Linked DNA regions of Homo sapiens. The protein of the gene in region 2 purifies or fractionates together with the protein of the main gene of each other region. This does not show direct contact. Each region holds a gene or a part of one and is shown on either strand. Other genes may lie near its edges. The genes, in order: DBT, FAHD2B and LGALS9.

Region 1 (3,651 bases), on a different chromosome or scaffold from region 2:
CCATAATCCAAAAAAATCTTAAATCCAAAAACGCTTCTGGTCCCAAGCATTTCAGGTAACGGATACTTAAACTGTAGAGACTTTCTGGAGAACATATGACAACATGAACCAACATTTATAAAAATTCGTGTTAAGGAACTAAGTGCAGAAGTATGTAGGGATACACAGGGATGTTGAGTACACACTGTTTATAAGTTTGAGAAACTGCAAATAATCATGATGTTTATAAATAGGTCACTGGCTAAATAAATAACAAAGCTATACTTGTTGACAATGATGTCTACAATATAGTAAATGAAAATGAAGAGGCTGGGCACAGTGGCTCATGCCTGTAACCCAGCACTTTGGGAGGCTGAGGTGGGTGGATCACTTGAGCCCAGGAGTTAGAGACCAGCCTGGGCAACATGGCAAGACCCCATTTCTACAAAAAAAAAAAAAAAGTACAAAAATTAGCTGGGCATGGTGGCACGTGCCTATAGTCCCAGCTACTCAGAAGGCTGCGGTGGGAGGTGGACACTGCAGTGAGGCGATGATTACACCACAGCATAGATATTCTCTATGGGGAATACTTTAGATAGGCAACAGAGCAAGACTCTGTATCAAAAAAAAAAAAAAAAGAAAAAGAAAAAAGCAAGTTAAAGAAAATATAAATAATTCTATATCTTGTAAAAAGTATGTAAAAATGAAATCCTAGAAAGATGTATATCTCAACATAAACAGTGAGCTATCTTAGGGTCATGGAATTGAGGGTAAACATCTTTGTTTTCTTTTTTCTTTTCTTTTCTTTTCTTTTTTTTTTTTTGACAAAGGCAGGGTTTCACTTTGTCACCTAGGCTGGAGTGCAGTGGCATGATCACAACTCACTGCAACCTCCATCTCCCAGGTATCATATGATTCTCCTGCCTCAGCCTCCCAAGCAGCTAAAACTATAGGCATGCACCACCATGCCTGGCTAATTTTTTTTTTCTGTAGAGATGGGGCCTCCTAACTTTGTTGCCCATGCTGGTCTTGAATTCCTAGGCTCAAGCCATCCTCCTACCTCTGTCCCCCAAAGTGCTGGGATTACAGGCAGGAGCCACCACACCCGGCCAACATCATTTTCTTGCCTGAAATTTTTTTAATAAGTATATACTTAATCAGGAGATATTAAAATTAAAATTAATACAGCTGACTGTATTAACCGTATGGGAGCTGACCTCCCAGAATATCTAAGCTCACTTTCTGGTTGTACATGTCTTTTCTTTTTTTTCTTTTTTTAATTCTCTTTTTGAAATGGAGTTTTGCTCTTGTCGCCCACGCTGGAGTGCAGTGGCACAATCTTGGCTCACTGCAACCTCCGCCTCCTGGGTTCAAGCAATTCTCCCACCTCAGCCTCCTGAGTAGTTGGGACTATAGGCGCTGGCCACCACGGCTGGCTAATTTTTGTATTTTTAGTAGAGACAGGGTTTCACCATGTTGGCCAGGCTGGTCTCAAACTCCTGACCTCACATGATCCACCCGCCTCAGCCTCCCAAAGTGCTGGGATTATAGGCGTGAGCCACCGTGCCCAGCCTCTGGTTGTGCACTTCTAATGATAAGTAAACTTCAGGAAAGGCATCTCAAAAAGAGTTTTCGGTCTTAAGAAACTTTCACTACTCACAGAAGAGTTTACTCAAATTGAATTCAAACTTTTATTATTTTTCTCACTTAAATTATTCTTAATATTAAAATTCCAGGAATTTGCCAGGCACAGTGGTTCATGCCTGTAATCCCAGCACTTTGGGAGGCTGAGGCAGGAGGATTGCTTAGACCAGAAGTTCAAGACCAGCCTGGGCAACATAATGAGACCACGTCTCTACAAAAAATTTAAAAATTAGTTGGGCATAGTGGCGCATGCCTATAGTCCCAGCTACACAGGAGGCTGGGGCAGAAGGATTGCTTGGGCCTGAGAGGTTGAGGCTGCAGTGAGCCACAATCACAACACTGCATTCCAAACTGGTGACAGAGTGAGACTCTGCCAATAATAATAATAATAATAAGAAGAAGAAGAAGAAGAAGAATAAGAATAATAATATTAAAATTCCAGGAATTCAATTTTGAAAGAGCTGCTTCTTTTTGAGAGGGTAAGTAGAGTGGGTAACATAATCTGCCATACAGCTATGTATTTCCATTATTTTAAGCAGGAAAAAAAAAAGCTTAAAAATAGTTTTAAGAATCTCTAAACAGTATTATTAACACAAAAACAACAACAATGAATTAGACTTAAGTTTAATGTTTTACCCCATACCTTTAATTCTAGTCTAAAAAAGATCACTATTTGAGGTACAATAGAAGTCTCTAATCTACAAGCACATTTGCCCCATCTTCTATTAATAATAAGAACATTTTTACTCTGCATAGCCAACCTTATATGTTATATTCTGGCAGTTTTCATCCACAGAAGCGTTAAGGATAGGAAACTGTAGTAATCCCAAGGAAGCAGCCTGTTTAACAGAAAAAGAATGCAATTTTAGTACTTTTAACTTAGAAAGGATAGAGAATTTGAAACAATAAGAGGTATAAAAGGAGGGAGAGAGAGAACTCTTATTTATGCTGAGTTTAATTTCAAGTCTACATGTACCTAGTCACATTACTGCCAATGTTACCTTCAGGCCATGTGGAACTAGGTCACCCTAATCATTAAAGAATAAAAGATAAAGTAGTCAGGTAGCTTGTAAACATCAAGGAGATTTTCAAAATAATGATACAGACCAGCCAAAGTTCCAAAGAAAATGTCTAAATTCTAGGTGATTTCCTCACTGACATGTTGATCTTAAGATTTCCATGAGAAGTAATACTAGGAATCAAAACACAAAAAAAGCAGGTAAGCTATTTCTCTGTGTGGAAAGAACACGTAACGAGGATTTCAAAGCGCACTGACCAGTAGATGCCAGTTTGCTACTTGGTGTCCTTGGCCAGCTGAAGGGCAGAGATGTCCTGAACATTTACTTTACAGCTCAAGTCTCACTGAATAGCATTTATATTTTCCCTCTCTGCTGCCTTCTCCCTTTTGTCACTTAATACCATTTCTCTCCTGTCCATATTCAGATTTCCCTAACTGTACCCAAAATGTTCTTGATAATCTGTTTTTGGGATCTAATAATCAAGTTTCATACCTTACATGTGGTGGCCATGCATTGTATTGAATTTAAAAGATAGCAAAATAAAAATGCTTAAGATCATTCTTAAAAAGAATTCCCTCCCCCACTGCCCTTGTCTGGTCCCTGTTAAAGTTCTTTACATGCATTGTGTTATTCTTCTCAGTGCATCGGGGTCTTGATGGGAAAAAAATCAAATTCTTGAACTAGAGAGTTAAGAAAAAAGTTTAAATATATAGAGACATTTCATTTTCATTAGTTAGGACAGGTTAAGAGAGTAGATCAACTGAAGAAAAATATAATTAAAAGAACTGCTACGAGTTCCTTAATTTTTATGACTTGGAAGTTTTTCTTGTTTGTTTTTGAGACAGGGTCTTTCTTTGTCACCTAGGCTGCAGTGCAGTGGCATGATCTCAGCTCACTGTAGCCTCAACGTCCTTGGCTCGAGTGACCCTCCTGCCTCAGCCTCCCGAGTAGCTGGAACTATAGGCGTGTGCCACCATGCCCAGGTAACTTTTGTATTTTTTGTAGAGAT
Region 2 (3,751 bases):
AGGTCAGGAGTTCAAGACCAGCCTGGCCAACATGGTGAAACCCTGTATCCCCTAAAAATGCAAAAAAATTAGCCAGGACTGGTGGCGGGCACCTGTAATCCCAGCTACTAGGGAAGCTGAGACAAGAGAATCACTTGAACACAGGAGGCAGAGGTTGTAGTGAGCCAAGAACATGCCACATCCCTCCAGCCCAGGCAACAGAGCGACTCCAAAAAAAAAAAAAAAAAAAAAAAGAAATTATCCACAGAGCTCAGGTCCTGTTTTGAGTCCAAGGCTCCACTTAAAGACAAACACTATTCTCTTGTTTTGTTCTGAATCCAAGTCTGGCCACTATTCCTTACCACATGGTGCCTTCCCTGAATGGTTCCTTGCTCTTCCAACAAAGGCAGTTTGTATTGTACAGCCTTCTATGCCCAAAAATGTTGAGGCAGCTGAGCCCCAGACTCTTGGTCCTCACTTGGAGATTCAATCTGCCTTGTTCAGTTAAAGACTCATTAGACTTAGGTCACCACTGTTGTGGCCCGCCAGTTTGACTAGAAAACAGAGTTTTGACTTCTCTGCCCTGCTATCTTACACAAGCACCAACTGTGCCACTGTCAAAAGGCTGTTCGAGCCAAAGTGCACACACTCAGACACTCCACATGCTAACATAACAGTAACTGCTGCCGCTGAATGCCAACTATTAAGTGCTCTACCTACAATGTCTGATTTAATTCTTTTTTTTTTTTTTTTTTTTTGAGATGGAGTCTCGCTCTGTCGCCCAGGCTGGAGTGCAGTGGCGCAATCTTGGCTCACTGCAAGCTCTGCCTCCCGGGTTCATGCCATTCTCCTGCCTCAGCCTCCCCAGCAGCTGGGACTACAGGCGCATGCCGCCACGCCCGGCTAATTTTTGTATTTTTAGTAGAGACGGTGTTTCACTGAGTTAGCCAGGATGGTCTCGATCTCCTGACCTTGTGATCCGCCCACCTCGGCCTCCCAAATTGTTGGTATTACAGGAGTGAGCCACGGCGCCCGGCCTGATTTAATTCTTGACGCTTGTGGAAGGTAGGTACTGTTAGTCCCATTTTACAGATGAAACAGTTAAGGCTTAAAGCGGTTAAGGGATTTGCCCAAGGTTACACAGTCTTAAAGCTAGGAGGGGAGGGAGCTGGGATGTGAATCCAAGTCCAGGTGACATTGAAGTCCTTGGTTCAGAAGCCTGTAATGCAAGCAAGAAAATCTAGCTTCAGCCCCATCTTCCTACCAAGGACATTTTAACCCAGAATGTTGTGGTGAGAAGTGGGGACCTTCCATAGGAAATCCTCCAAAGGCCCTAAAGATTGTAGTGAGAAGTAGGGACCTCCCACAGGAGATCCTCCAGAGGCCCTGCAAACAGCCATGCGTGGGGAAACTACAGGCGCTCTCTGGCTATTGCCTCAGGGACGAGGCTGGTTACCAGCTCTCCAAGAGAACTCCAGGCCCCATTGACTGTTCCCTTCCCACATGACACACACATGCAGGTTCATTCCAACCTTACAGCAATCCCCTCAGGTAAAGCGCCCTCACTTTACAGAAGAGGACACTGAGACTCAAAGGGATGACGTCAGGTGCCCAAGGTACTAGTCAGAAAGTGGCCCTGGGGCTTCTGCAACAACCACTATGTCACACAGTCCGAGCTCAATCCAACTCTGCAAGAGTCCATAAGCAAAGGGGCGGCGACGTGAGGTGGAAACAGTAGCCTGAAACGTGGGTGTGCACGTCGGATCCCATCCCACCGTCCACTCGCCTGGAAACCCCCAGTTTCCCCATATGCCCAGCTTCGTCCCCTGCAATTAGTGAGGGCTCACATGGGTCCGCCCCATCCGTGTGGTCGGAAACGGCCGGGAACCTGGTTCTAGTTCTGCCCTCCGCGGGAGACCTGCGCCAGGGACACCCTTCTGGCCTAACCCAGCCAGGCCTGGTCTACCTGGCGGCGGCGGCGGCGGCAGCCGGTCCTCCTGCGCTGAGTTAGGGCTCGCGGGGCGGGAGGTCAAGGGCAGCGGGCGCCTGAGCACTGGCACCAGTCACCGCATCCAGCCGGGGAACTACAGCAGCGGCGAAGTCACTGCCGCTCGGTGCGCACTCCAGCGAGAAGCGGGCGCGTCCTGTGACGTCACAGGCAACCACCCCTAGCAGGGCACCAATCCCGGAGGGCGGGCCCAGTGCGGGGCGGGCGGCGCCGGGGGCTCTTCAGGCTCAGGGCATAGGCAGGCGGCGGCCGCGTTTTCTGGAGACGGTCGCTCTCGGAGGGACCCTGCAATTGCCCGAGACCGAGAGTGGGCGCTGCCTGAAAGTTTGTCCCTGGGCGCTTCGCTGGCCTCATCCGGTCTCGGCCTTGTTCTGGGCCTGGCGCCTTTCCCATTGTTGGGGAAAGTGGTCTAGGAGACCAAGGCAGCGTGCTGGGTGGGAGAGAATGATTTGTGGCTTCTGATTCTGACATATGTCGTTAAGGAGGGGAGGGATGAGTGACCCTGTTTTACTTATGGAGAACCTGGGGCCAGAGCTGTTTTCCCAGGGTGACACAGGCGGTGAGTAGTGGAGCTGGCATTCCTGACCCCAAAGCTCAGCGTTTCCCAGCCACTCTCCGCAGCCAGGCCTTCACCTGCACTGCTGGGCGCAGGTGGGGAAGTGGGGAAACGGTGCTCCATCCCCTGCAGAGGGCAGGCGTGCGGGGAGCGGTGGCTGAACTCCACAGACAGCTACTGCTCAGCTCTTCAGCTGCCGGCTTTGAAGAGTGTGAGGGGCTCTGGGCAAGAGGCCCCCACATTACTCAAGGACCAGATCATCAAGAGCTTTACTTGTCCCACAAAGGAGTCTGGACCTCGTTTAAGTGCACAGGAGACCGCTGGAAGGTCCTCAGTGGCGTGCCATGGCCCGACTTCTATTTGAGAAGTTTTTCTCTGGCCACCCGTCTAAGGAAAGGTATCTGGGTGGGTGGTGCGGGTGAGAACAATGGTGGTGCGGTGCTTGGCGGAGAAGGTGAGTGTCCAGAGATGTTCAGGAAGAAGAACTGACAGCTCTGGATGACAGGAGGTGGAAGTGAGAAGGAAGCAGGTACAAGGCCGGCTCCTGGGTCTCTAGCCCGGTAGGTGCAGGGCCGTTCATGGAGACAGGGCTTCTGGAGGAGCAGCGGGTCTGGGGAGATGATAGTGAGCTCCAATTTGCATGGGACATCCAAAGGGCATTGAACGGTGGGCAGTTGGAGACGTGGGTCTGGAGCTTGGGACTTCAGCCTAGCTTGCAGAAAGTCACCACTGATATAGAAATGGAACCTATGGCCGGGTGCGGTGGCTCACACCTGTAATCCCAGCACTTTGGGAGGCCAAGGTGGGCGAATCAGATCAGGAGATCGAGACCATCCCGGCCAACATTATGAAACGCCGTCTCCACTAAATATACAAAAAATTAGCCGGGCGTGTTGGCGGGCGCCTGTAGTCCCAGCTATTCGGGAGGCTGAGGCAGGAGAATGGCCTGAACCCGGGAGGCAGAGCTTGCAGTGAGCCCAGATCACACCACTGGGGAACAGAGCGAGACTCTGTCTCAAAAAAAAAAAAAAAAAAAAAAAGAAATGGAGCCTATGGGGGTGGCTGTGATCAGGGGGATGTGCTGAGGAGAACCTGGCGTAAGTGTTTCATTAAGCCATAGCTCCCAAAGACTTTCTGAAAAGCTAAGTTACAGCCTGAAAGAAAAGATCTTCAGAGGCTATATTTGATAAAAGACTTGTATCCAGAAT
Region 3 (3,651 bases), on a different chromosome or scaffold from region 2:
ACCACCATATAACAATGGCCACTGTGACCTTTGCCCTCCTGGCCACCTTCAGCAGAGCGTCTTCCCAGATGCCTTCTGTAGCCGTGGGGCAGCCCCCTCCTCTATTTCTGTGCCCGGGCTCCCCATTCCTTCCCTCAGGCCCTCAGCAGCCCCGAGGCCTAGCGTGGTTTCCCCACCCATCCCAGGCCCCACGGGCAACCACTTTGTCAAATTCTCTCTTCTGGTGCTCTTTAAAGGAGTGATGGGCCATGGTGAGGCATGCATCGTTTTAGAGTCAGGCCAACTCCAGGTCTGAATCCTAGCTCTGCTGCTCATGACCTGAGTGACCTTGGGAAGCCTATTTCACCTCTCTGTGCCTCAGTTTCCTCATCTGTAAAATAGGAAGGTGTTTCACCTGCTGCATATGATTGATGATTTTGTGAGAAACAGCCTGTGGTAAAAGAGACTGGCACATAGGAGATGCTTCACCACTGTCACCCACCCCCCACCTTCATCTCTCTCAGCAAAATTCACAAACTGGTACTTCCAATTTTCAAAGTTTATTCCCAAAATGCTTCATATCCAATGTCGTTCTATAACCCGCATTAAAGCACAGTTCTATCTCCTGGCTGATTTTCACATTCTTCAAGTTTTTAATGTCTTCTCTAATATCTCCTTTAGGTCAATTTCCTACACAAATTAAATGCCTAAAGGAGCCAGGCAGGTGATGTGTATGGGTGAGATGGCCAGGTGGGGGAGTGGTGGGGACTGTGGCAAAGTAGATGTCACACCCCTCATCTGAAAAGTCAACATCTACTCCGTGCTAAGCAGTGATTGCCATCTGGGCCCAGTATTGGCAGAGCTTCCAAATTTTTAAGAGAAGACAGAAGTCCGGATTTTTTTTTTCTATAAAACTTTCTAATTTCTTGGGGGAAAATTTGTCAAAAAGGATTATGTAAAAGCTCCTGGCTGGGCACAGTGGCTCACATCTATAATCCCAGCACTTTGGGAGGCTGAGGCAGAAGGATCACTTGAGCCCAGGAGTTTGAGGCCAGCCTGAACAACGTAATGGGACCCCCATCTCTACAAAAAATAAAAAAAAAATAGCTAGGTGTGGTGGTGCACACCTTTAACTCTAGTTACTTGGGAGGCTGAGGTGGGAGGATCCCTTGAGCCTGGGAGGTGGAGGCTGCAGTGAGCCATGATCACACCACTGTACTCCAGCCTGGGCAACAAAGTGAAATCCTGTCTTGAAACCCCCCAAATTCCCATATTATAGAGATACAAAATGAAATATTTGAAATGGAATGGTATCTTTGGATTTGCTTCCACATATCTGAGGGTGGGAAGGAAGCAAGCGAGGGAGGGTATAGGATGAAGCAAGATAGGCCTGAGTTGATCATTGTTGGAGCAGAGTGATGGGTGTGTGTTGTTGATGGTACAATTCCTTCTGCATGTTTGAATTTCCTATAATAAAACGTTAAAAGAAACACTGTGCAGGCCAAACAGAAAACACCCACCAGCCAAATTCAGCCTACTTGCCACTGCTTTCTGGTCTGTATTGTTGAGTTGTGTGACCACACAGAACCCTGGGAAACCCATCCTAGCTCAGTGTACACACCTGGCACCGTGAGAGCCCCAGGAAATCTGGGATCTGATTCAGTTAGACTCTGCTCCCCATGGATTTGAGGGGGGTGTCTTTTGTTGCCCCTCAGGTCAGGTCTGAACTCTGCCATTAAGTACTTTAGTGACCTCAAGCAAATCACAGCTTCTCTGTGTCTCTGACTTCTCATTCTTGTCCCTGTCTACACCAGCAGTGTAGGGGAAGGAGAGTCAGCCTGATCCAATTATGGACCAGCACGGCCTAGGATTGGGAAGCCTGTTTTCCCTGAAACATGTCTGTGGAACATTTTTCTCCTTGCCTGTTTGTGGAAGCCTGTGATTCTCTCCAGAGCCTTTCATACTATCATGAGACACAACACTGAAAATACACACCCTCCTGGGAAGCATGCGGCCTCCACTTAAGTGTATTCACAGCACAGCATCTAGAATTGAAGGCAGAGCGTGATGGACATGGGCTGGCAAGTACACACAAGGCTTAATTAAGGAAGCCAGGAGGGAGAAAGAGGAAGTACAGATCATGGGGGCGGGACAGGACAGGCTAATCTCCAAGGCAACAAGTTCCCCAAAAAAGCTCTGTGAGGTTTCAAAATATCTTAAATAGTGCCCCCAAAATTCGGAAAAACAAGATTATTTATTTATTTATTTATTTATTTATTTATTTATTTATTTATTTAGAGATGGGTTCTCACTCTGTTGCCCAGGCTGGAGTTCAGTGAGGGCTGTGATCATGGTTCACTGCAGCCTCCACCCCCTGGCTCAAGTAATCCTCCCGCCTCAACCTCCCGAATAGCTGGGACAAAATAGGTGCAGGCCACCATGTCCCACTAATCTTACAATATTTTTTGTAAAGATGGGGTCTCTATGTGTTGCCTGGGCTAGCTCAAGTGATCCTTCCGGCTCGGCCTCCCAAAGGGCCAAGATTTCAGGCATGAACCATCATGCCTGGCCTGAAAAATGAGTTTTTAAATTGAATATCATCCTACAAACAAGGTTATTCATTGCAGCATTATAACACAAAGGATTATAAAGCAAAGCATTGGAAAGAGCTTAAAAGTCCTCTGACAGGAAAAAGGTGAAATAAATTAGGGTATTTCCATTTAATAGGTTCTGTGTAGCCTTAAAAAGAAAAGAAAAAGAGGAAGACAGAACTCTGAGCACTGATATGGAATGATGCCATTTGTATAAAAAGTGGGTGGGGGAAGTCTATGGACTTGCATTTATTTATTTATAGATAAAATATATCTGGAAGGATTTATAAGAAACTTATAACACTGGTTACCAGTGGGCCACCCCCCAGAAACATCCACATTCGAATCCCCGGAAACTGTGAATATGTTGTAGAAGGGACTTTGTAGATGTGATTAAATTAGTAATTTTGGCATGGGGAGATTGTCCTGATTTTAAAGGTGGTCCCAATGTGATCACAAGGATCCTATAAAAGGAAGGCAGGAGGATCAGTGTCAGAGGTAGGAGATGTGACAACAGAAGCACAGAAGCAAGAAGAAGCTGGTTTGCGTTTTTGGGGGGTTTTTGTTTGTTTTCGTTTTTTGTTTTTTGTTTTTTTTGAGACAGGATCTCATTCTGTCAGCCAGGCTGGAGTGTGTTGACGCGATCTCAGCTCACTGTAGCCTCCACTTCCTCAGGCTCACGTGACCCTCCCACCTCCGCCTCCCAGGTAGCTAGGACTACAGGCATGCACCACCACACCTGGCTAATGTTTGTCTATTTTTTGTAGAGACGTGGTCTCACTTTGTGGCCCAGGCTGGTCTCAAACTCCTGGATTAAGGAGATCCTCCTGCCTCGGCTTCTCAAAGTGCTGGGATTATAGGCATGAGCCACTGGGCCCAGCCAAAGCTGCTGGTTTTAAAGATGGCAGGAGGGGTCATAAGCCAAGGCCTGCAGGCAGCCTCTAGAAGATGGAAAAGGAAAAGAAACAGATTTTCCCCTGGGGCCTCCAGAAGGAAACAACTTTGCTGACACATTGATTTTAACATCTGACCTTCAAAATCATTAAGAGAGCAAATTTGTTGTTTTAAGATTGGCCAGCCA

Evidence for each region.
Region 1: the proteins of FAHD2B (region 2) and DBT purify together in Homo sapiens (affinity purification with mass spectrometry; one large-scale study listed by BioGRID and IntAct). This does not show direct contact.
Region 3: the proteins of FAHD2B (region 2) and LGALS9 purify together in Homo sapiens (co-immunoprecipitation; one large-scale study listed by IntAct). This does not show direct contact.

The regions. Positions count from the first base shown.
Region 1 is NC_000001.11:100,208,310-100,211,960, forward strand, and holds part of DBT (lipoamide acyltransferase component of branched-chain alpha-keto acid dehydrogenase complex, mitochondrial isoform 1 precursor), read right to left. Parts: intron 2,816-3,651; exon of another isoform or gene 2,731-2,815; intron 2,463-2,730; coding exon 2,385-2,462; exon of another isoform or gene 2,384-2,384; intron 1-2,383. UniProt on the Homo sapiens protein: The branched-chain alpha-keto dehydrogenase complex catalyzes the overall conversion of alpha-keto acids to acyl-CoA and CO(2).
Region 2 is NC_000002.12:97,092,756-97,096,506, forward strand, and holds the start of FAHD2B (oxaloacetate tautomerase FAHD2B, mitochondrial), read right to left. Parts: upstream 2,128-3,751; 5' UTR 1,946-2,127; exon of another isoform or gene 1,827-1,945; intron 1-1,826. UniProt on the Homo sapiens protein: Tautomerase that converts enol-oxaloacetate, a strong inhibitor of succinate dehydrogenase, to the physiological keto form of oxaloacetate. It is thereby required to maximize aerobic respiration efficiency by preventing succinate dehydrogenase inhibition.
Region 3 is NC_000017.11:27,634,068-27,637,718, reverse strand, and holds part of LGALS9 (galectin-9), read right to left. Parts: intron 1-3,651. UniProt on the Homo sapiens protein: Binds galactosides. Has high affinity for the Forssman pentasaccharide. Ligand for HAVCR2/TIM3. Binding to HAVCR2 induces T-helper type 1 lymphocyte (Th1) death.